Homo sapiens: one gene and its partners. The protein of the gene in region 4 purifies or fractionates together with the protein of the main gene of each other region. This does not show direct contact. Each region holds a gene or a part of one and is shown on either strand. Other genes may lie near its edges.

What was found.
Region 1: the proteins of VMA12 (region 4) and TMEM259 purify together in Homo sapiens (affinity purification with mass spectrometry; 2 studies listed by BioGRID and IntAct, with this or other methods). This does not show direct contact.
Region 2: the proteins of VMA12 (region 4) and CLTCL1 purify together in Homo sapiens (affinity purification with mass spectrometry; 2 studies listed by BioGRID and IntAct, with this or other methods). This does not show direct contact.
Region 3: the proteins of VMA12 (region 4) and ATP6AP2 purify together in Homo sapiens (affinity purification with mass spectrometry; 4 studies listed by BioGRID and IntAct, with this or other methods). This does not show direct contact.

The regions. Positions count from the first base shown.
Region 1 is NC_000019.10:1,018,106-1,024,971, reverse strand, and holds the start of TMEM259 (membralin), read left to right. Parts: upstream 1-3,848; 5' UTR 3,849-3,975; coding exon 3,976-4,200; intron 4,201-6,866. UniProt on the Homo sapiens protein: May have a role in the ERAD pathway required for clearance of misfolded proteins in the endoplasmic reticulum (ER). Promotes survival of motor neurons, probably by protecting against ER stress.
Region 2 is NC_000022.11:19,288,706-19,296,365, reverse strand, and holds the start of CLTCL1 (clathrin heavy chain 2), read left to right. Parts: upstream 1-4,646; 5' UTR 4,647-4,724; coding exon 4,725-4,766; intron 4,767-7,660. UniProt on the Homo sapiens protein: Clathrin is the major protein of the polyhedral coat of coated pits and vesicles. Two different adapter protein complexes link the clathrin lattice either to the plasma membrane or to the trans-Golgi network.
Region 3 is NC_000023.11:40,576,259-40,583,978, forward strand, and holds the start of ATP6AP2 (renin receptor precursor), read left to right. Parts: upstream 1-4,711; 5' UTR 4,712-4,807; coding exon 4,808-4,844; intron 4,845-7,720. UniProt on the Homo sapiens protein: Multifunctional protein which functions as a renin, prorenin cellular receptor and is involved in the assembly of the lysosomal proton-transporting V-type ATPase (V-ATPase) and the acidification of the endo-lysosomal system.
Region 4 is NC_000017.11:28,352,715-28,360,658, forward strand, and holds the start of VMA12 (vacuolar ATPase assembly protein VMA12), read left to right. Parts: upstream 1-4,932; 5' UTR 4,933-4,956; coding exon 4,957-5,167; intron 5,168-6,201; coding exon 6,202-6,275; intron 6,276-6,600; coding exon 6,601-6,690; intron 6,691-7,814; coding exon 7,815-7,857; intron 7,858-7,939; exon of another isoform or gene 7,940-7,944. Other genes in the region: POLDIP2 (polymerase delta-interacting protein 2), read right to left, coding at 198-305, 527-602, 981-1,077, 1,774-1,871, 3,081-3,162, 4,574-4,734. UniProt on the Homo sapiens protein: Accessory component of the proton-transporting vacuolar (V)-ATPase protein pump involved in intracellular iron homeostasis.

The DNA of each region.
Region 1 (6,866 bases), on a different chromosome or scaffold from region 4:
CACTGGCCATGGGGCTACTGAGCACTGGAAGTGTGGCTGGTGCCATCAGGGAAGCAAATACTTCATGTTCTTTTTATTTTATTTTATTATTATTTTTTGAGACGGAGTCTCGCTCTGTCACCCAGGCTGGAGTGCAGTGGCGCAATCTTGGCTCACTGCAAGCTCCACCTCCTGGGTTCACGCCATTCTCCTGCCTCAGCCTCCCCAGCAGCTGGGACTACAGGCACACCTCCACACCCAGCTAATTTTTGTATTTTTAGTAGAGACGGGGTTTCACTGTGTTATCCAGGATGGTCTCGATCTCCTGACCTCGTGATCTGCCCGCCTCAGCCTCCCAAAGTGCTGGGATTACAGGTGTGAGCCACCGCACCCAGCAAATACTTCCTATTCTTAAATTTCAATTAAAAATTAAAAACTGGCACTAGATTCCATTTTTTGAAGACACATATATATAAATACACATATATATGTAGCTGGGACTCCGAGTAGCTGGGACCGTAGACACGCACCACCACGCCTGGCTAATTTTTGCATTTTTAGTAGAGATGCGGGTTTCACCATGTTGGCCAGGCTGGTCTTGAACTCCTGACCTCAAGTGATCCGCCGGCCTCAGCCTTCCGAAGTGCTGGGATTATAGGTGTCAGCTGCCGTGGCCGGGCTATTTCAATTAATTTCAGTTAAAAATTAAAAACTGACATGATTTCCGTTTTTGACTATATATATATGTACACACACATTAAAGTTTTCAAATACATAAATACACACATATGTACACATTATACATATAAATGTAAATATATAGATATTTGAAACAGGGTCTTGCTCTGTCACCCAGGCTGGAGTGCAGTGGTGCAAATATAGTTCACTGCAGCCTCGACCTCCTGGACTCAAGTAATCTCCTGCCTCAGCCTCCTGAGTATCTGGGACTACAGGCATGTGCCATATGCCTAGCTAATTTTTAAATTTTTTGTAGAGATGGGGTCTCCCTATGTTGCCCAGTCTGGATTCAAGTGATCCTCCCGCCTCAGCCTCCCAAAGTGCTGGGATTGCAGGCGTGAGCCACCGTGCTCAGCCTCGTGTATATTTTAAATACCTTAGCGTTTCTGAATTTTCCTTTTCAGTATAAACGCTGTAAATCTAAATACTGTGGAGATAAGTATTTCTGAGGAAGCACTGGTATCCATATTGGAACACCCCATGGATGGGAAACACACCAGATTCTGAAGACTTGGTACATCTCAGTTACTTTTTTTTTTTTTTTTTTTTTGAGAAGTAGTCTCGCTCTGTCACCCAGGCTGGGGTGCAGTGGCGTGATCTCGGCTCACTGCAAGCTCCGCCTCCCGGGTTCAGGCCATTCTTCTGCCTCAGCCTCCCGAGCAGCTGGGACTACAGGCGCCCGCCACCACACCCAGCTAATATTTTTGTATTTTTAGTAGAGACAGGGTTTCACCGTGTTTGCCAGGGTGGTCTCGATCTCCTGACCTCGTGATCCGCCCGCCTCGGCCTCCCAAGTGCTGGGATTACAGGTGTCAGCCACCGCGCCCGGCCACTTTTTTTTCGTTTATGAGGTGGGGTCTTGCTCTGTTGCCCAGGCTGGAGTGCAATGGTGCCATCACAGCTCACTGCAGCCTCCAACTCCTTGGCTTAAGCAATCCTCTTGCCTCAGCCTCCCAAGTAGCTGGGACCACAGGCACACACCACCGTGCCCAGCTAATTTTTGGTATTTTTCGTAGAGACAGGATCTCATTATATTGCCCAGGCTGGTCTTGAACACCTGGGCTGAAATGATCCTCCCGCCTCAGCCTCCAAAAGTGCTGAGATTACAGGCATGAGCCACCGCGCCTGACCTTGTTTGGATAACTTGAGATGTGTAAAATATATTATTAAAATTAATTTCACTTGCTCTTTTTTAGTTGTTTTACTGTGGCTACCAGAACACTTAAAGTTATGTTTGTTATTTGCTTATCTTTCTCTTGGAAAGCTGTGTTCTTGACCTGTGGGCCAAATCCAGCTGCAGCCTATTTTTGTATGGCTTGTGAGCTAAGAATGGCTCTTACATTTTTAAGTGGTTGAAAAAAAAACCCAAAATATGAAAACCATTCTATCAAACGTGGAAATTACATAACATTCAAATTCCAGTGTCTGCAGACAAAGCTTTATTGGCACACAGCTGTGCCCATCCATTTATGTATCATTTACGGCTGCGTTTTCTGTACAACAGCAGAGTGGAGTAGTTACTCTACCCAAAAAAGCTAAAAATACTGACTGTTGGCTTTTTTACACTTTATTTTTTAGAGACAGGGTCTCACTTAGTCATCCAACCTGGAGCGCAGGGATACGATCATGGCTCACTGCAGCCTCCAACTCCTGGGCTCAAGCAGTCCTCCCACCTCAGCCTCCCAAGTAGCTGGAATTACAGGCATGCACCAACGTCCTCAGTTAACTTTTAAAAACATTTTTTTGGGGGGGCCGGGCGCGGTGGCTCATGCCTGTAACTCCAGCACTTTGGGAGGCTGACGCGGGTGGATCACGAGGTCAGGAGTTCAATACCAACCTGGCCAAGATGATCAAACCTGGTCTCCACTAAAAATACAAAAAAAATAGCCGGGTGTGGTGGCGGAAGCCTGCAATCCCAGCTATTCAGGAGGCTGAGGCAGAGAATTGCTTGAACCCAAGAGGCGGAGGTTGCAGTGAGCCGAGATCACGCCACTGCACTCCAGCCTGGGCGACAGAGTGAGACTGCGTCTCAAAAAAAAAAAACAACACAAAACTTTTTTTTGGCGGGCTTGGTGGGTCACACCTGTAATCCCAGCACTTTGGGAGGCCTAGGCGGGCAAATCACCTAAAGTTAGGAGTTCGAGACCAGCCTGACCAACATGGAGAAACCGTCTCTACTAAAAATATAAAATTAGCCTGGAGTGGTGGCGCATGCCTGTAATCCCAGCTACTTGGGAGGCTGAGGCAGGAGAATGGCTTGAACCCGGGAGGCGGGGGTTGCAGAGAGCCGAGATCGCGCTTCTGCGCTCCAGCCTGGGCGACAGAGCGAGAATCCATCTCAAACAAACAACCAAAAAACCCAAAAACCATAGTATCCTCTTGTGTACGCAGCCGGCACTCAGTAAGTGCCCCTGAAGAGCACTTATTTATTCATTGCTGCGCGAAGCTACGGGGGCAGGTGGCACAGCGCCACGCAGGAGTAGAGACTGCCAGATTGTTCTACCGCCAACCTTAGTGGCGCCACAGGAGATGGACACGGGAAGACTATGACGTTACTGGCCCTGTGACGTCATGGCAGGATCCGGGCAAGAGAAGCCAAACGAGGTGACGAGCTGTAGACTACAGCAAAAATATGGAACGCTTCACGAATTTGCGTGTCATCCTTGCGCAGGGGCCATGCTAATCTTCTCTGTATCGTTCCAATTTTAGTATATGTGCTGCCGAAGCGAGCACGACTCAAGGGTTACTGTCACACCTATTTTAAGCCCTTCAATCAAATCATCTTTTGGTTAGGATAACTTATGGTCGGTTTCATATTTAGCATAATTTCCTACAGTGGTATGTTGCAGAACAACTTTCGTGCTTACGCTTACTTTGATGTCTTCGATCACGTAAAATCCCATATCTTATCGTAATTTTACCGCCTTATACTGGCCTCATAGCCGCGGTGGATTGTGGGTGCCAATATGCAAAAGAGGTGGCCCAGATGCAGGCCCGCCCCCTGGAGCGGCCGAGGTAGGGGGTGAGGCCTCCGCGGGCGCCGCTGGCATCCCAGCGTTCTCTGCGGGCGCAGGGGGGCCGCTCTTGCCCGGCGTGGCGACTCGCTAGCGTCAGCAGCGCCGCAGCCGGACGAGAAAGCGGAAGATGGCGGCGGCGGCCGGGAGGCCGTGAGGAGAGCGGCGGCTGCGAGGGCGGCCGATGGCGGCCGGGAGGCGCCCTCGGACACTTGCGGGTCGTTAGGGCGCGACGCTGGGAGGCATGTCGGAGCACGTGGAGCCCGCAGCTCCGGGGCCCGGGCCCAACGGCGGCGGCGGCGGCCCGGCCCCCGCGCGCGGGCCTCGCACCCCCAATCTCAACCCCAACCCCCTCATCAACGTGCGCGACCGGCTCTTCCACGCGCTGTTCTTCAAGATGGCTGTCACCTATTCGCGGCTCTTCCCGCCCGCCTTCCGCCGTCTCTTCGAGTTCTTCGTGCTGCTCAAGGTGACCGCGGCCCCGACCCCCGACCCTTGACCCCAGCGGCTGTCCCGACCCCCAAGTCTGCTACCTCCGACCGCGACCCCTGGCCCCGCTGGGGACAGCGAGCGCCACCCTGCACCCTGAGGCCTATACCCGGCCCTACCGATTAGGGCTCTCCCTCGCGACCTCTGACCCTGGGATTGGCCAGGGACACCGTCTCGTGACCCCATCCCGCCCGGGGACGTCCACCCGGGAAGGCCGGATCCCGCTGCACTAGAAGCCGCTGTTCTCTACTCTGGAAACCTCACTGTCAGCTCCCTCCAGGGCCCATCCTGTCCCCGGCGACCGCCTTTCCCAGGTCCCCACCTACCCAGGCTTGGAGTCCGGTCCTGGCCTGCGAGGTAGCACCTCCCGCCCTTTGACCCCTGACTGTGCCGCCTGAGACCCTCAGTTCCGAGGCCTCTCTCCCCTCCCAATGTGCTGGCCCAGAACCCAGCCTGACGCAGGTCTCCCTCGGACCAACCCCTGTCCTGGAAGTCGACTCCCCACTCCCCTCTCTCCCTCCTTGTAGCCTTTCAGCTGCGTTCCCCGCTCCTGAGCCTCAGGGGAATGTGACTTAGCTGAGGTCACCTCGCTAGGGTTAGCGGCAAAGTCACCGGCAGCAGCGTACCACCCCATCCCCGGCCTCTTCCTCCGCTGGGTCCCCACTCCCTTCCTGCTTCAGGAGCTCAGGTTGTGGGTCTGTCGCCCGTGCCTCCCCTATGAGGCACCGGCCTCCGCGTCTTGGGCTCTGTCCCCCTCCCGCCCTCCTCAGATGGCAGAGGTCTCAGCCGTGCAGGACAGGCATCGGCCTGACTCCCTCTGAGAAGGAGTCTTGCTTGGGTGACAAGAGGGGCTCAGTAGCAGCTGCAGCCCCTCAGAAAACAAGCTGGCCGGGGTCCTGGGCCACCTGGCGAAATGGGGACGTGGCCGTTTTCGTTCTGCATCAGAACACCGCCGCGCCGGGGCTTGGGGGCTGCTGAAGTTGCGCCGTGAGCTTTTTGGATCTAGCCTGCAAAGAGGGGTCCGATGCTGGCGGGCCAGGCTGCGATCGTGGGCAAGTTCCCAGCCTGACACAGGTTGGTCAGGAGCTGGCTGCTTTTTTGGGCTCGGCAAGTGGAGCTGGACCTTGGCCGTCCTGCGGACCTGGGTGTGGGTCCCAGCCTGCTGCCACTTCACGGAAGGCCCCCCAGCCTCCAGATCCGTGCCTCCCCAGGCCAGAGCTCAGCCCATCATCCTTCCCACCTTCCTCCCTGCAGCCCCCCAGAGTGGCATGGTCGCCTCAGTAGGCACCTGAGCAGGGCTGTGAAGGGTTACGCAGGCAGGCGGCCTTTCCCGGCTCTGGGGTCCACAGACGGGGCCTGAAACTGTGGACGGAGGCTGGTCTGTGGACGTGGGTTTTCCTTCCATGGAGTAGCCTGGGAACAGGATGGAGCCACTGTGTCCTTAGGCTTGTGGAGGGTGTGTGCTGGGTGCCAGGCCAGGTTCCCCCGACGGAGCTCAGCCTCCTTGGGAGGTGCATCCCTGTCGCCTGGGCCCTGGTCCCACCATGTCCCGGTTTGGAAAGGGATCAAGCCTACCCGGCTCCATCTCCAGGCCAATACCACTCACAGGTGGTCAGATGGGGCTGGGCCAGAGCTGGAGTTCCCCGTCTTCTGTGTAGGGTGGAGACTCTTGGGAGGTTCTCAGTAACCCCAATCCCTCCTCTCTCAGCAGAGGGCTTTGGACTGTGAGATCTCTGGGTGGTGAATTTTTTTTTTTTTTTTTTTGAGATGGAGTCTTGCTCTGTCACCCAGGCTGGAGTGCAGTGGTTTGATCTCGGCTCACTGCAAACTCCACCTCCTGGGTTCAAGCAATTCTTCTGCCTCAGCCTGCGGAGTAGCTAGGATTACCGGTGCCCACCATCACAACCGGCTAATTTTTTTGTCTTTTTAGTAGAGACTGGGTTTTGCCATGTTGGCTAGGCTGGTCTCAAACTGCTGATTTCAGGTGATCTGCCCGCCTCGGCCTCCCAAAAGGCTGGGATTACAGGCGTGAGCCACCATGCCTGGCCTGGGTGGGGAAATCTGTTCTTTGTGAATTTTCCACCCGGTAATCTGGTGGCACAGAATCTGACCCTGCTGCCTTCACTTTTACTTATCTGCAAAGTGCAGGCTGGAACTGCCTGATTTCAGAGGCTGCCTTGAGTTCCAGAAGGCTCCTCTGCTTCCTGCCTGCCTGGCTTCCGGGGGTCTCCCTGCAGAGAGCCAGGTCCTCCCTGGTATGATCCCTTCAAGGTGGCTTCATCCTGTGGCATCTGTGCAGCTGAGCTCCCAGCCCTGAGCTGGCATGGAGTCCCCCAGCTCTCACCCATGCCTGGGTGGCTTTAGGAAATGCCAGGATCTCCCAGCTCTGAGCCAGCATGGAGCCCCCCGGTCCCTCATCCATGCCTGGGTGGCTTTAGGAAATGCCAGGCAGTGCCAGGTGCTGGGGAGAGAGGAGGCGGCAGGGGCCTGTGTTCCAGGGGCCCTCGGGAGACCTCCATCCAGCCTCAGTATCCACCTCTGCTGGCCTTCATGGCCCTGAGCCCAGTGTGGCAGAGACTGTCCATCTTGGGGCACTGGGTGCCTGCACCTGTGCGGTTGGGCTCTGGACCCAGGTGACCACCAAGT
Region 2 (7,660 bases), on a different chromosome or scaffold from region 4:
CCAGTTTCAACCTCATTATTTTATTTGACCACTTTGAAGATACGATTATTCTGCTTCATTGTTTGAGAAGTCAGTAGTTAAGCTTAATTATCTCTCCCTAGAAAGTAATCCATTGTTTTCCCTCTGGCTTCTTTTAAGTTTTTTTTCCCTAGTTTTGAGCTATTTCATTATGATATGCCTAAGTGTATTTTGCCTTAATTTACACATTCCAATTAAAATCTGTAATGTTTCTGGAAACTGAAGATTGATATCCTTCATTAATTTTCAAACCCTAAGCCATTATCTCTTTAGATATTGCTTCTGTCTCTTTCTCTATACTTCTAGGACTTCAGTTACCTGTATGTTAGACCTCTACATGTATCCTCTATATCTAATTTATTCATATGCTTTATTTTCTGTCCTTTTATCTCTGTGCTTTAATTTAGATATACTCTTCTGACTTAACTCTACCATCACTAGCTTTCTCTTTTCAGAGGTGTGTAATATGCTAACACTATCTGGTGAATTTTCACAATTTCAGTTCTAGAATTTCCATTTGGTTCTTTATAATTTACAGGCTTGTGATAAAATTCTTAACCTTGTCTTTTATCCTCTTAACCATATTAAGCATAATTATTTAAAAGTCTTTGTGAAAACTCCATTTTTTGATCCCCTAGAGCTCACTTGTCTGTTACTGTTCTTGTTTTTGTTTCAGATACAGGGCCTCATTCTATCACCGAGGCTAGAGTGCAGCAGTGTGATCTTGGCTCACTGCAGCCTTGACCTCCTGGGCTCAAGCCATCCTCCTGCCTCAGACTCTGGAGGTGCATGCTCAGCTAATTATTATTATTATTAGTTTTTTAGAAACAGGGTGTCACTATGTTGTCCAGGCTTGCTCTTGTTTTTTGCAACCATTTTGTCTTTTCTCCTTGGATGCCTACTTATTTTTGATTCAGTGTTGAACACTGCATATGAACAATTGTAGAAGTAATTTGAGACCATGGATGAGGTTATCATTCCCAGGGAAGATTTACATTTGCTGCTGGCAAGGACTGACATGATTTGAATGGAGTCCCAAACAACTTGTGGTCCCAAAACAGTACAGTGGGATACCTCCTTGGTGGTACCAAGCCTCCAAATTTTGTCGTCCTAGGGCAATGAGAGTGTTAAAAGTGCTGCTCAGAGTCCTAGTGTCTCAAACATTCATCTGGAATTGGCAGATGCCTTTCAAGAAAAAGCAGCCATAAACCACTCACCTCTCTCATGTCCTTTCTCTCTGATATTGGCCTCATAATTATTCACTGCCTTTTTAGTTCTCTGAAGCTGTCTGAAAACTAAAGTCCTCCAGTGACTTTTTCTTTTTTAAAGACAGGGTCTTTCTCTGTTGCCCAGGCTGGAGTATAGTGGTACGATCATAGCTTACTGTAACCTTGAGCTCATGGGCTCAAGTGATCCTCCTGTTGCAGCCTCCCAACTAGGCCTATAGACATGCATCACCATGCCCTGTTAATTTTTAAATTTTTTTGAAGAGATGGGGTTGACCAGGCTGGTCTTGAACTCCTGGGCTCAAGCAATCCTCCTACCTCAGCCTCCCAAAGCGCTGCGATTATACGCCTCCACAGACTTTTCAATTCCACCTATAGGAAAGTCCCATGGGAATTGGAATTTAGCTATAACATGTCGTTTCTTGTACCAGTTATTAAATAATGTCTTTCAGCTCTATTCTCCCTTCCCACCTCTAGACACTGCTTCTGATGCCAGGGCTGAGACTCTAAAAAACATATTTCTCATTGGCAAATAAAGAAGATCTGATCTAATATTCCCTATTAGACTAAGCTGATAGGTTGATAGAGGGAGACCACAGGGCCACTTCCTGTGAGCATCACCCCAGCTAGGCTTCTTCAACAAGGCAGCAGCACATTCTTCCCACAGAAGCTGAATCCAGTTTAAGTTTTTCCAAGACTTGCAGAACCAGCCTCAGTATGCCTTCTCCTTAGAGATCTGGGTGAGAGTCTCCCAGTGCCCTCTTTAGAGGGCTTACTCCCAGCTCCACAGCCACCCCTCATCCATAGTGTGTGTCTAAGTCCCGTAGGGACCCTCCTCAGAGGTCTGAGTCCCATCCCCATGGGATCTCTCCTCTGGGCTCAATGACCCCAGCCCCAGCTGGTCAACACACCTCCTCAGAGATCTGAATTCCAGCTCTGCAAGCCCTTCCTTTAAGCTGTAATAATTCCAGCTTCTCTTTCATCTTTGAGCTCTAGGGGTGGTAGCTGTGTCCTATGTTTGTAACTCCATATCTTGGGATTTTCTTTTTATTATTTTAAATTTACTTCCTGTTAACTATTGTTTATATTCAGTTCCCTTTGTTTAAATAACTGATGCACTTTCTCTCTCTTCTGTGGTTTGAAGGTTTGTGTCCCCTTCAAAATTAATGTTGAAACTTAATCCCGGGCCAGGCGCGGTGGCTCACACCTGTAATCCCAGCACTTTGGAAGGCCGAGGTGGATGGATCACCTGAGGCCAGGAGTTTGAGACCAGCCTGGTCAACATGGTGAGACCCTGTCTCTACTAAAAATGAAAAATTAGCCAGGTGCGGTGGCGTGCGCCTGTAGTCCCAGCTACTTGGGAGGCTGAGGCAGGAGAATGGCTGGAACCTGAGAGGCAGAGGTTGCAGTGAGCAGAGATCGTGCCACTGCACACCAGCCTGGGCGACAGAGCGAGACTCTTGTCTCAAAAAAAAAAAAAAAAAAAAAAGAATTGAAAGGTTTTTTTAGGGTTACTTAGCAAGTTACCTACAAGTGGTGAGAATATTAAAGTCCCTTTCAAGTCAGAACATTTAATTTTTTTACAAGTATATTAACAACTTTATTTCCTGTTAACTACAACTATCACTTATATTCACTTCTGTCTATTCAAATAACTGTTGTGCTTTCTGTCTCTTCTATGGTTTGAAGAGACAGAAAGATTTGTGTCTCCTCTAAAATTAATGTTGAAACTTAATCCCCACTTGAGGTCCCGACGTATTAACAATCCTGTCACTTTGCTTAACTATGATTTTCTTAAATTCTTTCTTTTAGGGTATAAAATTTTAGTTTTAATCCCCAAAAAGCCCTGGGGAAGGTGATTTAGGGAGTGATGGTATTAATTACTAAAAAATTTATATAATGTTTGGGGTAAAGGGTACTTGGAGTCACAGGCATCATTGCCAAAATAAAGAGATTTGGGAAATGTAGTACTAACCACAGCAAAACCCAGCTCTATATTTAGCGGATGAGGCCACATGGATTTTAGAAAGGGCGGGCTGCAGAGGTCTTGGCTAATACTGGAAAAGAGATTTAATTTGAAAGTGAACAGTCTGTTCTATTCCTTAACATATTTTTGGCTACTAGATGGTCAAGCCATTGCGCAAATAATTGCACCATCCTTGTCTTATTCAAGGTGGGCCGTTCATTTCTTAAAATTACCAGTGAGCAACATGGGAAGCAGCAGAGACGGCTATCGATTACCCCGTAGGGAGTGCCTGTGCTGAATGCCAAGGGCTTCCCTTTCCTGACAGACATCTTTTATGCAGCTGAATCATCTGTATGCAAAACATCAGCCAACGGTGCCTCGGAAAAACAACTGGCTGCTGGGCAAACCAGGTGTGGGCTCCAGCTTCCACCTGCTACTACTGTCGTGCAGCCACGGGCACTCTGGGTGATCCTCACTGGCCTGGGGCTGGTCATCTGCTGCTAGATGACCTTCGCTGACTCTCTACATTGATATTCCGACACAGTGTTCTCTAGAAACCGCATGAGCCAGGAAAGGTGTTTCCTAAAGGAGCAGGGGCCGAGCCTCACGCCGAAACACGTCTGTAACACGTACAGTCACGCGTCCCATGCATCCATGCATTCTGAGACATGCGTCTCGGTTGTGGGATCATCACAAGGTAACTTACACAAACTCAGATGGCACAGCCACTACACAACTAGGCAGCTGATGCGGTCCGCTGCTGCTAGGCCGCAAACCCGCACCGCGTGTGAGGTGCGTTATTCCCCTGGCACGGTAATGACATACCTGTACGTGTATCTCCAAATACAGGAGAGGAAATGTCCTTAGCTAAGCCCTCACCAGAGGACAGGAAGTTTCCAGCTCCGTTATCATGTTATGGGACCACCGTCATATACACGGTCCTCCTCAGACCAAAAGGTCGTTCGTTATACGGCACATGTGGTTCTTCCAAGACCCTTTTCCATCTTTCTGTCACATCCGTGCCTGAGTAAAAAGTGGCCCTGAACTCAACCGTCCAGAGTTGGCGGCAGAACTAGCACCACTGGCCCGCTCCACATGTGGAAGGCGCTGGGCAAGGGCCGCCGCAGACCCCATCAGGATTAATCCCCCGAAAACCTTTCACTCGGGTAGCTGGCACACACCGCGTCAGGGCAGAGGGCGCGCGGGACTACTTTCCGCGGACCCTCGGAGCGGGCGGAGGGATCCGCGCAGGCGGGACGGGGCAGAGGCGGGGGCAGGGGCGGGGGCAGGGGCGGGGGCAGGGGCGGGGCAGAGGCGGGGCAGGGGCGGGGCAGGGGCGGGGGAAGGGGCGGGGAAAGGGGGTGCGGGCCGGGGCGCGGTCAGGGAGGAGGGCGGGGGCCAGGACCGGGAGCTCGGGGCACTGCGCCTGCGCCGTCGCCACCGGTCAGCCCGCGCGAGGGGTCGGCGTTCATTCCTGCCGCTGCCGCCGCCGCCGCCGAGGTCCCGCACCAGCCATGGCGCAGATCCTCCCTGTTCGCTTTCAGGAGCACTTCCAGGTGAGGCCCGGCGGGCTGGGGGGCTGCCCTGTCAGCCGCGCCTCCGCCGGGCCGGACTGCCAGGCTTGACCCCGCGCCCCCAGCCCCGCTGAGCCGCTGCCCAGCTGGCCGCGCCGATTTCCGACCTCCCACCTGGGCTGGGGCTGCGGCGTCCCGGGCGCGGCGGCCGCTCCTGAGGACCCGCTTGGGTGCCGTCGCCGAAGCCCGTTACCGGCGGGGCCGGCTGGGGAATGGTGGGGGTGGAAGCCAACGCCCCCTGGGACGCCCCGCTCAGTGCCCGCGAGGAGGCACACAAATTCCCGCTGCAGGCAGGGCAACCCAAGGGCCGCGCGGATCCCACAGCTCCACGCCCCTCCTTGGCGTCCTGCGGTCCTTATTCGCCCCTGAGTTTGCCTCTGTGATCGGTTTTCGTCCCCAGGGCGGCTTCGCCTGGGAGGACCGTGAACATGCGTGACCCAAGAGAAAAATTTCTCAGGGCCAAGCCTAAATAGGGCTTTTCAATGCAGTAACACCCCCAAAGCCTGCCTTTTTAATAAGGTCCCAGTTTGTTCTCCATTTGTTTGTGTTCAGAAACATAAGGACTGGCCCCCTGCTTTGAGCAAAGGCTCAGGTCGGGCGTCGTGCGGGCCGCTCGCGGGTCTGCCCGGGAGCGGTGCTGGTCCCCACGTTTACCCTGGGAGGTGCGGCAGAGGAGGGATAGCCAGCGGCTCCTCCCTGAGTGCTCTGTGTTAAATCATCACACTACCATTCGTTGCGATTCGCTTACTCTTTTCTAGATGAGGAAACCGAGTCTCAAAAGTGTTAAAGAACTCATCTTCATTCAATAAGAACAGGATTCAGACTCAAGTCTTTTTGACCACAAAGTAGTACATCGAGGAACGTGCTTGCTTGAAAGTTCCTATTTTCACAGTGCAGAGCACTGTTAGCCCTAGATGCAGACGGGAAAAGCCTTGGGAACTGTGTAGTGCAGTCCAGTCCCCTCATTCTGCAGACTGGAAACTTGATATCCAGGGGATCCTGCCAGGGTCACTTGGTTAGTGACACAGTGGAAGTTGTATGGAGGTGGGAGTGCCCTGACATCTGTCCGGGCTTCATTCTGCCACTAAGCTAAGCCAGCACCAGTCATGTTGAGGTAGCAAAATACTGCTGCTGCTCATAATAATGATGATGATGTAGTTATCATTTACTGAGCCGTTTCTCTTGCCACTCACTAGACTACTGTATTTTATAAATCTGGTTTAATTTAATCCTCATGATAACTGAGGCAGATAGTGATATCCTGTTTTCTACCATGGGTCACTGAGGTTAATATTCTAATTCCTTCAGCAAAAGTTACATGGCTAGTAAGTGACAAAGCTTGAGTTCTAACCCAGGTCTGATTCCAATGCCTGTGCTTAACCACTATCTAAATATGTTCTTTTCAAAGGGCAAGAAAGCAACAAGATATTTTAGGTGTCCATCAGAGTTTCTAATGTCCATCAGGATTTGTAATGTCCATCAGAGTTGATATGTTCCATTATCTGGAAAATGCTTGTGGCTTGTGGTGGGCAGCCACGTGAATGCAAGTCTGGTTTGTGGTCTCTAACACTGACTGGGTCTTTGAGGCTGCTGTGCATTCTGTAGAGCAAACACTGAGTCAGCACACACTGCCTTCACTACAGACATTTCGAGACTTCAGCCTGTTCCTTAAATCCCTGATCCTGCCACTCCTGCCTTGCAACCAGCAGATGACTTGGAGAAAACTGAAGCCATAACTGGGATGTTTCTCACCTATATGGCTGCAGACTTAGATGTTTGTCTGCAGCCACCCTTTCCTGCCTTCCTGTTACCTCAAAAGTAGGTGTCCTTTCTTGTCTATGTTCTGGATCTGGTATCCTTCTTCCCTATAAGGGAGCCTCGTTCAGTCATAGCCTCCCTTTCCTGTATTTTCATCCTTCTGTCTTGTTGTTTCTTCCTGTTTGTGTTGGGCAATGCTCACCTCTCTTCCATCTGTACAACCAGCAAACTTCTTCCCCCGCTCTTGTCCCCACGAAGCTCTTGTCTCATAGCTGGATGTCATGAAAGAGCTGCTTTAGTGCTTCATTATTTTTATGTTCCACAGTAACCTGCAGTCTGGCTTTTGTCCCCATTTTTTCCCCTGAATCTGTTTTTGCCAAGGTTACAAGCCATCCTGCAGGCTTTTTTGTAAGGGCCACATTCTGTCTCTGTCCCATATTCTTACATTTTTTAACCTTCTAAAAATATGAAAAAGACTTTTAGTTTAGCCATACAAAAGCAGGCTGCAGTTGGCTAATCTTTGCTGTAAAAAATAAAATCAGGCCGAGCATGGTGGCTCACACCTGTAATCCCACCACTTTGGGAGGCCGAGGCGGGTGGATCACCTGAGATCAGGAGTTCGAGACCAGCCTGGCCAACATGGTGAAACCTCGTCTCTACTAAAAATACAGTATTAGCCGGGCGTGTTGGTACGCACCTGTAGTCCCAGCTAGTCAGGAGGCTGAGGCGGGAGAATCTCTTGAACCCGGGAGGCAGAGGTTGCAGTGAGCCAAAATCATGTCACTACTCTCCAGCCTGGGTAACAGACCGAGACTCCGTCTCAAAAAATAAGATGCGATGAGCTAGGTGAGATAAAGCCCATCACACCACACGCATCTTCTGTGATGTCCAGCCGCATTTGATGCTGCACTTTACTGCCTCCTGAGGGTCCTTTCTCTACTGTTTTTGGTTCCACAGTTTCCCAGGGTTTCTCCTTCCTCTCTGCCCACACCCACTGCCCCATGGGCGGCTCTTGTGCATGAGCTTGGAATCTGTCTTGAGCCCCTCTGCTTTTTCATTCAGGACATGCTGCTGGTGATGTTATGTATTCCCATAAGCTTGATGTTCCCAAGCCATCC
Region 3 (7,720 bases), on a different chromosome or scaffold from region 4:
TAGCCAGGTTGACATGAATATGCAGACTACTACATACTTATATATCTCACTGTAAATGAACAAACTGCTGTTCGCAACATTAAGATCTTATGAGTTTATTATTTTGGGTTGATGTCACCCAGTTGGATTAACTCTCGGATGCTGATAGAACTGGGATTCTCAGGCTGGAAGGCCAAAGCCTGGCTTTTGCCTCATAGTGAATTCCCACAGGAGATAGCATCTCTACTATCTCTCGGAAGACAGCCATTAGCATGCCAACCACAACACTGGCCTTTCTTTGGAAACTTCCACACTCACTGAAGACATGTTTTGTAAACACAAGATTTTGCAAACATAATTTGAAACCACATACAAATAATTTCTACCAAGTCAAAAAGAAGTGCTCCTTCTCAAGACTCAAAAAAAGCAAACTAGATTTTTAAAACCTTTCTACTGGAAAATACAGCACACAAGTGAACATACAATATCAATGCTCAGAATATGGATAATCACAAAATGAACACTAGTGTGACAACCACCACCACCATTCAGAAATGACCAGCACCCCTAAATACTTCTCCATGTCTCTTTCAGACATATCTTTCTCCCCTCCACCCTGGAGGTAATCACTGTTCTAATTTTTTATGGTAACCATTTCCTTGCTTTTCTTTAAACTTTTGTCATCTATGCTGGATTCTTTAAAAATATAGTTTCTGGGTTTTTTTTTTTTTTTTTTTTTTTTTTGGAGATAGCGTTGCCCTCTGTCACCCAGGCTGGAGTGCAATGATGAGATCTTGACTTACTGCAGTCTCAACCTCCTGGGTTCAAGTGATCCTCCTGTCTCAGCCTCCCCAGTAGCTGGGACTACAGGTATGCGCTACCATGCCTGGCTAATTTTTTTTTCTTTTGAAACAGGGTCTCACTTTGTCGCCCAGGCTAAATTGCAGTGGCACAAGCTTGACTCACTGCAACCTCCGCCTCCCAGGTTCAAGCGATTCTCCCGCCTTGGCCTCCCGAGTAGCTAGGACTACAGGCACGTACCACCATACCTGGCTAATTTTTGTATTTTTTGGTAGTGATGGGGTTTCACCATGTTGACTAGGCTGGTCTTGAACTCCTGACCTCAAGTGATCCACTCGCCTAGGCCTCCCAAACTGCTGGGATTACAGGTGTGAGCCACCGCGCCCAGCCCAGACTTTCCTTGTTTTTGATGACTTCTGAGGAGCAGCAGTCAGATATTTTGTAGAATGCCCCTCTATTGGCATTTATCTGATGTTTTTCTCATGATTACACTGGGGTTATGGGTATGGGGGAGGAAGATCATAGAGGTGAAGTGCCTGCCATTATCATTGTATCACATCAAGGGCACACACTGTCAACATGACCGATCACTGTTGGTGTTGACCTTGATCACATCGCCTAGATAGTATTTGTTGGGTTTTTGCACTGCAAAGCTGCTCTCCCCTCCCCCACACCTTTCCATAGTGTATATAGTACCTTTTGAAGAACATAAATTCTTAATTTTAACTGCATGGTCTGGGAGAGGGGCATGATCTTCGCCTCCACAGGGCTCCTGGATGGGATGTCTCATTTGCAGGGATCAGCTCATGTTATCGCGCTCACTCCGGGATCACTCAGAACTCACTGCTGGACTTAATTGGGGGACGAGGGCGAGACTTAAGGAAGCAAATGGAATTATGTATTCTTTCAAATCTTGCATCTGGACCTCTAGTTTTGAAACTCAAGAGCCAAGAATTTGACATTTGTTTTCAGGTTCTCCTGAGAGTCCTCCCCTCAGGGCAACGGATGGCTGCAGTCTTGCCTATTTGGCCTGTGGGGAGGGTGGAGAAAGGCTTCTTTTAGGCTAACAAATGGGGTCATAACTTCAAATATTGTATTACCCTGCTACACACATATCCATCTCTAAATGCTTCAGTGGAAAAGTTAACCGCACATCACCAGTTGTTTACTGAGCGCTAAAGATTGAATCAGCAGGGCTGCATTCACGAAGCAGAACTGCTGACGATTCAGAATATGACCTTGAGTACATATGCCCTTCCCTAGGCTTCAATCTCTCAATCTATGAAACAAGGAGAGGGCTTCCGACAATGTTTATCTTGCTAAATTCCAAGGTTGTAGAGAACAACAATGCCCCTTTGCAACCTCAGGTGAAAAGGGCCCTTAGGTGTAAAGAATACACTATTCGCTGTTAGCTCAAAAGGGGATGTTATTTCTCAAGACATAAATGGATTGTGAAAGATTGTGAGGTTTTCTGGGGGAATGGGGGGGTGGGGACTTATTTTATATTCCAGTCTATTTACAAATTTTTTCATCTTCCTCAAATTCAAAGAAATAAGAATGTACTAGAAGTCTTAAGAACAGAAACATTCACTCCTTTCCCTGTTTCCTTAAGCTGGATGAAATGGCAGGAGGTCTGCTCCACTTTTAGCTGATTATGTCCCTAAATAAGGTTTAGATAAGTTCTTGCAGGGCCTGTGATTCAAAACCTGTTCTAAGACATGCAGGGAGATGGACAAAGAATTTTAGTTGGTGTGAAAAGATTGTGAATTTATCATGCTTAAAAATGAATTTTTAAAAATGATTAATTTTTTTCCGCCGGGAGCAGTGGCTCACGCCTGTAATCTCAGCACTTTGGGAGGCTTTAGTGGGTGGATCGCCTGAGGTCAGGAGTTCGAGACCAGCCTGGCCAACATGGTGAAACCCCGTCTCTACTAAAAATACAAAAATTAGCCGGGCGTGGTGGTTGGCGCCTGTAATCCCAACTACTTGGGAAGCTGAGGCAGGAGAATTGCTTGAACTCGGGAGTTGGAGGTTGCAGTGAGCTGAGATCGCACCACTGCACTCCAGCCTGGGCAACAAGAGGGAAACTTCGTCTCAACAACAACAAAAAAAGTGATTAATTTTTTTCGAGTCAGTCACATTAGAGTGGATGTTTTGGAGGGGTGCTTTAGACATTTTGGTTCTAATAATTTCACATGCCTGATGGAAAAATCTCTCTTCTCCCTTTCAGAGTTCTCTAAAGTCCCATTTGTACAAATTCTCCTCTAGAGGAAAAGCAAGTTTGAGAGTTTCCTGTTTCTTGACGTTAGGTGAGGAAATCGACTCTGTTCCCTAAATTTGAGAGTGGCTTTGGTAAGCATAGTGTGTTCTAGAAAGTTCAAACTATTTAGTGAGTGTTTCTCTTTTTTTGCTTTCTTTATTTTCTAATAATAAAAAGACAGGGCCTCACTATGTTATCCAGGCTGGTTTTCAACTCCTGGTGTCAAAGGATCTTCCCACCTCGGCCTCTCAAAGCGCTGGGATTACAGGTGTGAGCCACCACACCTGGCCTCGAGAGTGTCTTTCTGATTCAGTTTTCAGTTGGGCAAGGTTTTCCTAGGGTGGGTCTGCTACCTGGGGAACTCCTGGGGTCACTGTTTTTAACTCGCTCTCATTTTTTCATCCTCAGGAAACTCCAAGAAGAAAATGGGACTGGAAACTGAAGAAACAGTAAGGCATTCCCCCCCTCCCCCCCGCCAATAAGTCTGTCTTACATTTGTGCAGTAAATCATGCTCAAACGCCTTCAATGGCTTAGTGTAGGTCTCTTATGTACAATTTAAAATCCTCAATAAATGTGCCTAACTGAAAGTTTTAGCTCTGTGCCTCCTCTCTCATATAATCTCTTATTTGATTACTGATGCTTAACCTGACGGGGCTTTCTCCCCACCTTAACTACAGTTTTCACTGGAACAATCTCCCCATCTCCTATCCTTGGATATGAAATCATTTCCACCTTTCAAGGTCATCAGCTGGGGCGTCATTTTCTACCTACAGACGCTATAGTGTGTCCCTTCTTGCCTCACATCATAGGCAAAAGACTATGAACTGCGGGAGGGGAGGAGCCTGGTCTAATTACTATGTCTAGCCTTCATACATCCTCATAGAACACCTTGCCCAGATTGGAAACTGAGTGAATGGACAAATTAAGTAATTAATTAACTTTCTGTCCCATGACTCCTTGTAGATTGGAAAGTCTTTGGAGGTAGAGTTGCCAGACTTAGCGAATCAAAATATAGGATACCCAGTTATATTTGAATTTCAGATAACCAGTAATACTTCTTTTAATACAAGTATGTCCCATAAATTAATTGCGACATAATAACAAATAATCGTTGTTTACATGAAATTCAAATTTAACTGGGCGCCCTGTATTTTATCTGGCACCACTATGTGGAAGGCAGGGGTTCCCCGTTGCGCCTGGCTTCTTCCCAGTAGGTGCTCGGCGTCTGTATACTTGTTAGAGCGAAACCCCAACCAGCCCCGCCTTTCACAGCTGGCGTCCGTAGCCGGGCGGAGGCACACGACCAGGAAAGACAGACACCCTGGTTGGAGACCGTCGCTCGAGACTGGCAGAAAGATCTGCACTCGGGAGGCACCCTCACCCCGTGGGCTCCGGGACCCCTCGACTAGCTCCATCACCCATTCCGACTACCCGCCCTACGCTCCACCTCTTGACCCGTCATCACCGACCGGGGGGCGGGACTGCCCGACTTTTCAATCGCTGCCTACCATTGGTAGAACTCTCCATCCGTTACTTTAAGTCCCGCCTATCAGGCTGTCGCTTCCCAGGTTACGTCCCTTCCGTAGGCCGCGGCGTAACTGGTGATTGGTGGAGAAAGCGGCAGCTGTCCCAGCGGAAGCGACGAAGGGACGGGACCCGGGAGCCTGGACGAGTCCGAGCGCGTCACCTCCTCACGCTGCGGCTGTCGCCCGTGTCCCGCCGGCCCGTTCCGTGTCGCCCCGCAGTGCTGCGGCCGCCGCGGCACCATGGCTGTGTTTGTCGTGCTCCTGGCGTTGGTGGCGGGTGAGGAGCCGGGGGCCGGCAGGACGTGCCTGGGGAGGTCCTGCGCCGCGGGGCTTGGGGGTCGGGGGCGGCCGCGGGCGAGTAGCTGCGAGGCAGGTGCCGCAGTGCGGTCCGTCAGCGGCGGCCTCGCCTCAGCCGCGTCCCCGTCAGCATCTTCTCTGGATCGGCCGTGGCGGCGCGGCCTCACGGGCCGCCGGGGCCGGGGCTGGGCTGCGTAGGGGGCCCCTGAGCCTGCCTCCACCCTCCACTTTGAGGGCGGCGCGTCCGGCCGGCTTCTTGCGCCTGAAAAGGCCCTTCAGAGTACGGAGATGCATTTCTCAGTGAACTGGGATTGAGTCGCAGCCCGCTGCGAAGAAGAGAAGGCAGACTTTTTAGCTGCCACTGGCTGCCACGATGTTTTTGCATTTGTATGGTGCCTTCATTTCTAGTGGTTGTCATCAGTAATTGCTGAAATCCCTGCCCCTCCCTTCCCTTATGTATATTTCCGGATGCAAAAGTTGAGATGGAGTCATTATTTTTATATGACTTATATTTCTTAAGGCGAATACAAAGCACCTCTCAATAGTTTGTCAGAGTTCCAAATTTTAAGGATTTGGAAACAGGATGTGAGTCGCATTTTTAGGGTCACATGTCAATAAATGGTAGCTTTCTGAGTAGAACCTAGATTCCTAAGCATTCAGCAAGAGGTGAAGAAATCAGCTAATACGTGGCCTCTTACTGCATATCATGTGGTAATGTATTTCATTTGACAGCAGTCCTTAGAGGGCATCATCTTTGTTTTGCAGGGTGATCAACCTAAATAAATTACCCAACACTAAACAGGTTGGGTGCTGGATTTGATTTCAGATGAGGTGGTGCCAGCGCATCGGCCTTTTCCATTATATATGTTGTGTTGCACAAGTAACGCTATTACTGTGTGAGAATGTGGGAGTGATGGGGACTGAGACTGGAGGCACAGACAGTAGTGAACAAGAGGCCAAGTTGAGAACGGCTTGGAGGAATGGGTGCTCTGATCTCAGTGTGTCAGTTTAAAACCTATGGGAGGCCGGGCGCGGTGGTTCACGCCTGTAATCCCGGCACTTTGGGAGGCCGAAGCAGGCAGATCACCTGAGGTCAGGAGTTTGAGACCAGCCTGGCCAACAAGGCAAAACGCCATCTCTACTGCAAATATAAAAATTAGCCGGGTGTGTTGGGGCACACCTGTAATCCCAGCTACTCAGGAGGCTGAGGTACGAGAATCGCTTGAGCCCGGGAGGCGGAGGTTGCAGTGAGCCGAGATCGCGCCATTGCACTCCAGCCTGGGCGATAGAGCCAGACCTTGTCTCAGAAGCAAAAACAAACATACAAACAAACCAAAAACCTATGTGAGGTGTTGGGAGGTCCTGCTTGTGGAATGGCGATTTAATTCTGCACCAGTATGCTCTTGAAATCTGCAGATCTCTGTCCCTAGAGGTGCGGGGGTTTTGTGTGTTAATGATAGTTACGTTGTATCCATGCCCCAAACGTTTTCGAGTTCTTTGTTTCTTTCTTCTGTTTCTGGCTCTGGAAAGGTCTTTCTGATCTACTGAGATACTTTGAGGGAATTAATTTTAATTCAGTTTTTGAAATTTTAAAAATATTCCCTTTGATCCTGTGGTTTAACTGAACATCTATTGAGATTCCATGTTTTAATATTTTGACTGATATTATTTTGATTCAGTGAGGTATAGGCTTTTTTGTTTTGGGTCTGAGATAAAATAATTGCTTCTGCACATGGTTTGAACATGTTTTCCTTACTAGCATAGCCGAGTTCATACAGAACAAGAACCTGATCCTGTCAGCTTCTGAATTGCTCAGTCTTGTCAGATGAGGTTCAGTTATTATTTTCCACAATGACTAAATGTGATGTAGTGGAAAACATCTTTAAGAGCTCTGACTTCTCTATTCCAGGCAGAAACAAAAATAGAAATCCTTTAAAACAGTGTTGCCAAACTAGAGGGAGAACTAGGGACCTAGAGAGAGAGGAAGGGAACTAGGATTTTGAATACCATATCATGAGGCGTATTTGATAAAATTCAGATATTTAGCCTGGAGAAGAAAGGCCAAGGGTGAACACATGGAATTTGAAGTGATGTCATGTAGAAGAGGGAGATAGGATCCATTTTTTTATTATTATTGATTCCATCCACCATTCGTAGACGATAATAGCACAGTATAGTGGAGTTCCTAGAGGGAAGGACACTTAGCCCAGACTGGGGAGGCTGAGGAAAATTTCCCATGGGAGGTGCCTCCCAGGGCTAATGTGTTGAAAAGTTGGGGTGGGAAGAAAAGGTATTTGAAACAGAACAGCATGTGTAAAAGCATGGCGATGTGAGAGCAAAGGGGCAAGTAGTTTGGTGGGGCTGAAATGTACAGGATTAAGTTGGGGAGATACCAGAAATAAGGCTGATGAGGTTTCTTGGGTGTTAATGCTTTGGGTTTTGCCTCAGAGTCTCTGGGCAGTGAGAGAAGGCATTTAAGCAGAAGGGTGAATGATCAGATCTGTATTTTGAAGCAGTTATGGGAAAGGCTGGATTAGAGAGTGGCATGACAAGGGTCATAAGGCACCCAATTCTAGCAAACCTGGAGAGGGCCTGAAGAGTGTGCCCTGGACATAGAGGGGAAAGGATTTGTGAGATAAGAAAAAAAGATGAAATTCAGTGGCTAATTAGCTGTGTTGCTGAGGAAGATTTAAAGACGACTGATTCCAGCCACTGGGTGGAAGGAAGGTGGTATCATCCTTCAAGATAGAATACAGGAGAAGTGTGTGGAAAGATGGTGAATTGGGTGTGTTTTTGGTGTTTGCAGCCTTAGGAGTAGTTGGGCTCAGCCTGGGAGAGATGTAGAATAGGAAAGCA
Region 4 (7,944 bases):
TTTTAGTAGAGACAGGGTTTCACCAGGTTGGCCAGGCCAGTCTTGAACTCCTGACCTCAGATGATCCACCTGCCTGGGCCTCCCAAAGTGCTGGGATTACAGGCGTGAGCCACCGTGCCCGGCCCTGGAATTATTTCTATGATATTCTTTGATGAAAAGGCCCTCCCATTCCACCTCCCCTTCTTGAGAGAGATTACCTTTTGTCTGGTCATACAGAAGAAATCTTTCAAAGAGTTCATGTTGGATGGGAACCTGATCAGTGGAGGTGTAGGGGAGGATGTCTTCATGGCTGACATAGTCCAAGCCTGGCACAGAGATGCAAAAGACAGTGGTGAAACTCACAGGAGAGGAGAGAGATGGGGTTGAGAAGAAACATTAACTGGCCTTGTTCCAGTATGGGATAACCCTGATATCATACCTCTCAGCATCATAATCCCTCCCAGTGGATGACAGGACATCAGAATCCTCTCCCTGAGACACACCAGACTCCTTCTTGACGGGCACCATTCAAATGCTAACTACTCACCTGGGATGGCATAGAGGGCCCGACTGTCATCATGGTTAGCCAAGAAGGTCACAGCTTCTGTCTGAGATCTCTGAGACTAAGGCAAGAAGTGAATCAGTGGTGAAACCATGTCTCTGCTAAAAAGTACAAAAATTAGGCTGGTGTGGTGGCAGATGCCTGTAATCCCAGCTACTCGGGTGGCTGAGGCAGGAGAATCACTTGAACCCGGGAGGCAGAGGTTGCAGTGAGCTGAGATCTCACCACTGCACTCCAGCCTGGCGACAGAGTGAGACTCCATATCAAAAAAAAAAAAAAAGACGTGAATCAGGGCTTTGTTGGCCACTGTGCAGTCCAAGGCCTTGGGGACCAAGACTGACCTGGGCTCTGTTTGACCCCCTTCCCTCCCTTTGTCCCCATTGGGATGCAGGACTTTCCATGGAGAGGACCCCCAAGCCCAGCCATCTTGCTTACTTACTATATGTGGGCAGTCACGAGCATCAATCAGCACCTGATAGTAAGTGTGAGTTTTGCCTTTCACCTCCTTGGAGCCATGGCCAGCAGGGTTCTCTGCTCTATGGGGTGGGAGAAGGAGGCCAAGATCACCCCAGGAGAAATGGAAGCTGTGGCTGACTCAGCTCCCTACTCCTCCTCACCTAAACAGGCTGGTCTCTGATCTAAAGGGGCTTTAGCACCAGCTGGACACCTGCTCTGCAGCACCTCAGCTCAGCTGCTCCTCAGTTGGGGCAAATAATAGAGCATGGAAGACCATGGTATGGAGCCATCATCTGACCGTGTGGATACCTCTTAAAAGAAGGGGGCCATGTTGAGAAAATCAAATTGCCACCTCAGTCCCCAGGGCCCAGAGTACTCTTGTCTTCTTATATCCCAGGGACTGTCTGTGATCACTTAATGGGGCTGAACCTTTTCTGTTTTAATGTATTCTAGGGATGATGTGAGATTGAGGGAAAGACTCCAGCTGAACATCAAGAAATCAAGAAGACTTGTCCCCCAAATGCCCTCTGGGATACTCATAATGAAAATTAGGAATGGCTTAGGAAAGCATTCTGAGGAGGCCTAAAGGGACTCTCTGACTTAGACTATCCCTGGCACTCAGCACTTTTGTCTCCATGGGTCTTAGTCCCAGAGAAGTACTCTGGGGATGTTTCCAAGGCCTAGGAGGACGCTGTCTTCACCCCTAGTACCCCAATTACATATGTCTGCCATCTCCTCCTGAGGATACTGTGAGGCACAACCACAGGGAAACTTACTTTTCTGGAGCTGCAGAAGCCACATCCCGGTCATACAGTCTGGCCTGCCAGGGAAACAGGACGACACCTCGGTAGCCAAAAATGCTATGAAGGAAAAGCTGGAAGGAAAGAGGGGCCTCAGTGAGTCTGCAGTCCAGCAAATCCATCCAGGTGGGCCCCAGACCACAAAGCAACACAGGTGGAGGCAACTCCAGCACAAGGTCTTGCTACCTCTTCCCTTGAAGTCTGTGATCAACCAGACCAATGCTGGAACACTCTTATTTCTTCTTTACCTGGCTGACTCTACTCATCCTTTAGGTAAAAGCTTAGGCCTCCAGGAAGCCTTCCCTGACCTCCCTTCCACTTAGCACAATGTACAGCTATTGGCCATTTGCAAATCGTTCTTTTCTAGACTAGAAACTCCACAATAGCAGGAATCATGTCTACTTTGCTTTCTGATTTAACCCTAATGCACAATGCCTAGTCCATTGTAGGCACACAGAAAAATAAAATGTTGAACAAACAAAAAGTCTTCCTTACCTACAATATCCTAGAAGGGCCTAAATCTATCCCAGTGGACCCAGAACAAAGCTGATATAGAAAAAGAACCACACATCCAGAGTTTACCACACTGAAGTCAATTTTATTACGGCAAAGCATCAAAGGTATACTTTTCTGAAAGCTCCCTCCACGGCTTCCCACCATCCACTATGTTAGAGAAATCTTCAGCAACTTGGCTAAACCTCACTATAGTCCACACCATCCCTGTCCACATTAACTTGGAAAGAGAACCCACTGACACATTAAGTGCATTCAAATCCAGGAGAACAGAAACCCTATCTATAAAAATTTGATTCTGGGCTGGGTGCGGTGGCTCACGCCAGTAATCCCAGGACTTTGGGAGGCCAAGGCAGGTGGATCACCTGAGGTCGGGAGCTCGAGACCAGCCTGACCAACATGGAGAAACCGCATCTCCACTAAAAGTACAAAATTAGCCAAGTGTGGTGGCGCATGCTTGTAATCCCAGCTACTAGGGAGGCTGAGGTAGGAGAACTGCTTAAACCCAGGAGGTGGAGCTTGCAGTGAGCCGAGACCATGCCATTGCACTCCAGCCTGGGCAACAAGACTGAAACTCCGTCTCACAAAAAATAAATAAATAAAATAAATAAATAAAATAAAAAATGAATACAAATTTGATTCTGGAATGGCACCAAACATCAAGGTGGAATGAATGGAACACCATACCATGCAGGCCTGTGACCTAATCTGACTTTTTTCAGAAGCAGAGCACTCTATGAAAATGAAAGATGACCCAGCCCAATACTCACCTGCCCGGTCTCATATTTTCCATTCTGTTTTGGCACCTCAAACACACCAACTGTCTCCAACACTTTGCCCTCTGGTCGGTTTCTGAGTAGGAAGGAAAAGAACAAGCAACAGAAAAGCTGAGAAGGTAATGGTAGTTATCCATAAGAAAAAGCTCCTAGGATACTGAGGGGCCAGGGCGATGACAGCAGAGAAGGGTTTGGGGTAGTGGGACCAGCTGGAGCAGGAAAGGCTTTCCTCCTCCTTGGTGAAAACCTCCACAGTCTCCCAGTGTTAGATGTGACCGCTCCCATACTACTGTCTTCTCTCTTCACTGGGCATTCTTCATATCATGCCCTCACACTCTGCTCAAATGTACCCCTGCCCTTGTTTCTTCCCTAACCCACCCTCCTGACCTCCCACAGCACTTTAACTGTCTTGCTCACTTTTTCAATTTTTTTAGAAGGGGAGTATCTTTTTTTCTTCTTTTCTTACATTTTCTATATCACAAGTCATCAAACAATATCCTGCTCCCTTTACATTTCAGTTGTGTCCATGTCTTATCTTTATTAAATACTGTAAATTCCCTGGGAGCAATGCCTGAGTCTGATTAGCTGGTACTGCCCCCTCAGAGCCTAGTGTACAAGAGGTGCTCAAAAAATATTTGTCCTGTATTATAATTCCATGTCCATCTCCCCCTCTAACCTGTAGCCCTTACATTGCCCTTGAAAAGCTTAAACATCTCTAGATTTCCTACGGCACATCGCTCTCTCAATACCGTTTTTGTTCATATTCTCACAGGGGTCTTAAATTGCAAATAGCTATCATCTCTCCCCAATGTTCAGTGTCTAATATCAGCCACTAAAATGTCAGTCACCACTCTGAACAGGGCTGCTCTTTCTAGGGGCCCTTCAAATAAAGGCTGTTTTTACTGTTTTGAAGATGTGAACTTTATGCTTCCTCCCACTGATCCACCAGCCCATTTGATCCGCCTGTCCCATCCGTGGAAACAGTTTCCACACCATCCCCATGGCCTCAAACCCCCTTCCCCAAGTCACAGATAGAAAATCGATCTCCCCAAAGTCACTTGGAAACCTGGGGCCTACGAGGGTCCACACCCAAGAGTCTCGTTTCCCACCTCTAGCATCTTTCTGAGGCAGACCTTCACCAAATCCAAAGGCTGAGGGTTCAAGCCAATGCCCTAGGGCTGAATTAAAAAGCTTCCCTCTGACATCGGTGCTGGGGACCCCAGCCGGGGAAGTAGGATTCACTTGGGGAGGGTAACCTGTTCCCCCCCAGGGCCAGCCCTGTACAACCAGGGCTCTGGGCCGCGCTGGCTTCCCTGCTCCTGGCACATGTCCCAGACAGCGCAGGTCGGCTCCCTGCTCGGGACCCTCTCCCGGGTCAAACTCCAGTCACCCTCAGCAGGCCCGGGCCCCTGGCCTCCGCACTGGCTAGGAACACGCTCTCTGGGCTCCAGGCCCAGTTCCTCGCGCCCCCTGGCTCCGTCCCTCACCGGGACGAGAGGTGCCTCCGCGTCGTCGTGGTCGACGCTGGCGAGAAGGCTCCAGCTCCGGCCGCCGCACAGAGCGGCCTTGGCCACCGGGCCCCAGTCAGCGACCGGGACCACCAGCGGCTGCCCACGGCCAGGGCCCGCCGGGCTGTACAGGCTGCCATGTCCCGCCCGAGCGCCCGCCCGGCTGCTGACACAGAGCCCGACCCGCGGCCGGGCGGCGTTCCGCCCCAGTCCCACACTGCCCCGCGCGGCGTCCCGGCCCTCTTGGCCCGCCTGGTCCCACCCCGGAGCTCAGAGCAACTTCCGGTGCGCTTAGCGTTACTTCCGGCGCGCGGCGGGCGGAAGTCCGGGTTGGGGTCACCTGACCGGAGAGCCGGCTAGATATGGCGTCCTCTTTGCTTGCGGGCGAGCGATTGGTGCGTGCTTTGGGCCCCGGCGGGGAGCTGGAGCCAGAGCGGCTACCCCGAAAGCTGCGGGCCGAGCTTGAGGCCGCGCTGGGGAAGAAGCACAAGGGCGGTGATAGCTCCAGTGGCCCCCAACGCTTGGTTTCTTTCCGTCTCATCCGGGATCTGCACCAGCATCTGAGAGAAAGGGGTGAGCCCCAGTCTCCAGTCCGGGGTCCCCTCCTTGTGTCCAGATCGATTCCCTCCTGAGGTCTTTTCCCATCATTCCCCTTCTTCTACGGAGCACTCATCTAGACAAGTCAAGAGTCACTCCATAAATCCCAGGGCCACCCACTTTCTTAACTCCCATGGGAATTTCTCGTGGATGACAAATTTGCTTGTGCAGTTTCTGCTCTTTTGAGAGCCCCCTCTTCACTTCCAGGCACACCTAGGCCCAATTCACCCTTGAGAAAGTCTAGGTTTTTACCAAATACAAATATCACAGGTTTTGTCTCTTCTTTTTCTCCACTTTAGGAATCAGCTTAGCATAGTGAGCTTGTAGGAATCCGGATTTCTTTCCACCTCAAAAGCAAGAGTGGTGAAATCTGATACTTTGTTTTGTTTGTTTGTTTTTTTAATATAGGATGGCAAAAGCTGTGTTGAAAGATCTGGCCTGAGAGTAGCATGTGAGTTCCAGTCCTAGCTCTGTCACTAATCCTTTGAAGGAGTCATTTCTCCTCGCTGGGCCTCAGTTCCCTTATGTGTAAAGGGAAGGAACAGGACAAACTAGCACATAAGGTATTTTGCCAGAAGTAACATAGACCAGCCAGAAGTGCAAAGGGTAGACTGCTCAATTATTAGAACTAGAAAGGACCTTAGAAAGAGATTGCCTAGTATTAGTGTCCTCTGAGCATTTAGCATCACTATGACCTAAACTTATTTAGGGAAGAGCTGTTGTGGCCACAGAACTGATCTAACCCAAAGGCACAAGTAAATGGCTTACTTGTTAGTTATAACACTGGCAGGATAATTGAGAGCTGACAGCTAAAGTCACCTGCGCAGCACTGGGAGATACCTACATGGAATTATCCAAAATTCTTTTCAATTGAAAATGATCCTGGAAATGGATTAATGTAGAGATGGCCCTGTTTTATTTTGGTAGAAAGAAGGGCTACACCCCTCTTGATCTTAACCCTTCAACCTCAGCTCGTGGATCATTGTGTTTGTGAAACCTTTTCTTCTCAGATTCCAAACTATACCTCCATGAGCTCCTAGAAGGCAGTGAAATCTATCTCCCAGAGGTTGTGAAGCCTCCACGGGTATGTAAGGGATATGTTTGTGAGAGTGGTTATTGACTGAGTTGGGCTTATCCATGATACACTGAACTTATAAATCAACTTTTAGGCTTGAAAAATTGTTTTTGAAATCTTTGGGATCTGGGGGAGCCAGATATTGTCCTCCCCATCAGCTGTTTGGAAAATTGAGATCAAAAAAAAAAAAAACAGTTTCAAAGCACTGGAGTTACGACTAGTATGTGGGTCTCCTGATACCTTTAGCAGTGCTTTACCCCTGGAACCAATGATTGTGATGTGCTTTCTAACAAGCTGGGAATATCATTCTTCTCATTTGATTTTTCTGCTTCAGAACCCAGAACTAGTTGCCCGGCTGGAGAAGATTAAGATACAGCTGGCCAATGAGGAATATAAACGGATCACCCGCAACGTCACTTGTCAGGTAAGGACATGCTCTTCAGTACGTGGTCTAGGTAGCCCCTCAGAGTAGGGCCCTGCAGTGGAAGAAGATACAGAGTTTAGAAAAAACATGGAAACTTGGTTTCTATACTGTTCAGGGACCATAGGAAGTCTGCATACAAACAACACAGTTCCCATCTCATTCACTGAGACTCTGGGCTGAGATGGTGACCAAGTTTTAAACGTCATAGAAGTGGGAGTTAGCCGGGCACGGCGCTCATGCCTGTAATCCTAGCACTTTGGGAGGCTGAGGTAGGTGGATCACTTGAGGTCGGGAGTTCGTGACCAGCCTGGCCAACATGGTGAAACCCCGTCTTTACAAAAAATACAAAACTTAGCCTGGCGTGGTGGCGGGCACCTGTAATCCCAGCTACTCGAGAGGCTGAGGCAGGAGAATCACTTGAACCCAGGAGGCGGAGGCAGAGGCTGCTGTGAGCCAACACTGCACCATTGCACTCCAGCCTGAGCAACAAGAGCAAGACTCCATCTCAAAATAAATAAATAAATAAATAAATAAGTGGGAATGAATCTTGGAGGCTTTTTTTCTTCTTCTTTTTTTTTTTTGAGATGGAGTCTCACTCTGTCACCCAGGCTGGAGGGCAGTGGCAGGATCTCTGCTCACTGCGGCCTCCGCCTTCCAGGTTTAAGTGATTCTTATGCCTCAGCCTCCCAAGTAGCTGGGATTACAGGCATGCACCACCACGCCAGGCTAATTTTTTGTATTTTTAGTAGAGACCACGTTGGCCAGGCTGGTCTTGAACTCCCAGCCTCAAGGTGATCCTCCTGCCTCGGCCTCCCAAAGTGCTGGGATTACAAGGTGAGCCACTGTGCCCAGCCATTCGAGCATTTCTTCTGACAGGGCTCCCTACTACTCTATGGCATGCTCCTACCCTGGAACAGGAGAGTAGATGGGTACTGGCAGCCTATGTCCTCTCTCCGAAATGCCTGCTCTGTAGTCCAGAAAAGAGTCAAAATGGTTCCAGACAAAAGAATCCATGGGGAGGGCAGAGTTAATATGTTGGGGAATAGAGAGGGCTGAGCCAGACTGTCAATGGATGCTCTCTGAGCTGCTTCTATTCTGAATCATCTTCTTTTTCTTTTTCCCAGGATACAAGACATGGTGGGACTCTCAGCGACCTGGGAAAGCAAGGTGAGGTACTAGGAGATCAGGCTTCTAAAACCTTTTCCTGAGATGGGTCATGACACTCAGGCTTGTTGTTTGACTGAAACCCAGTTG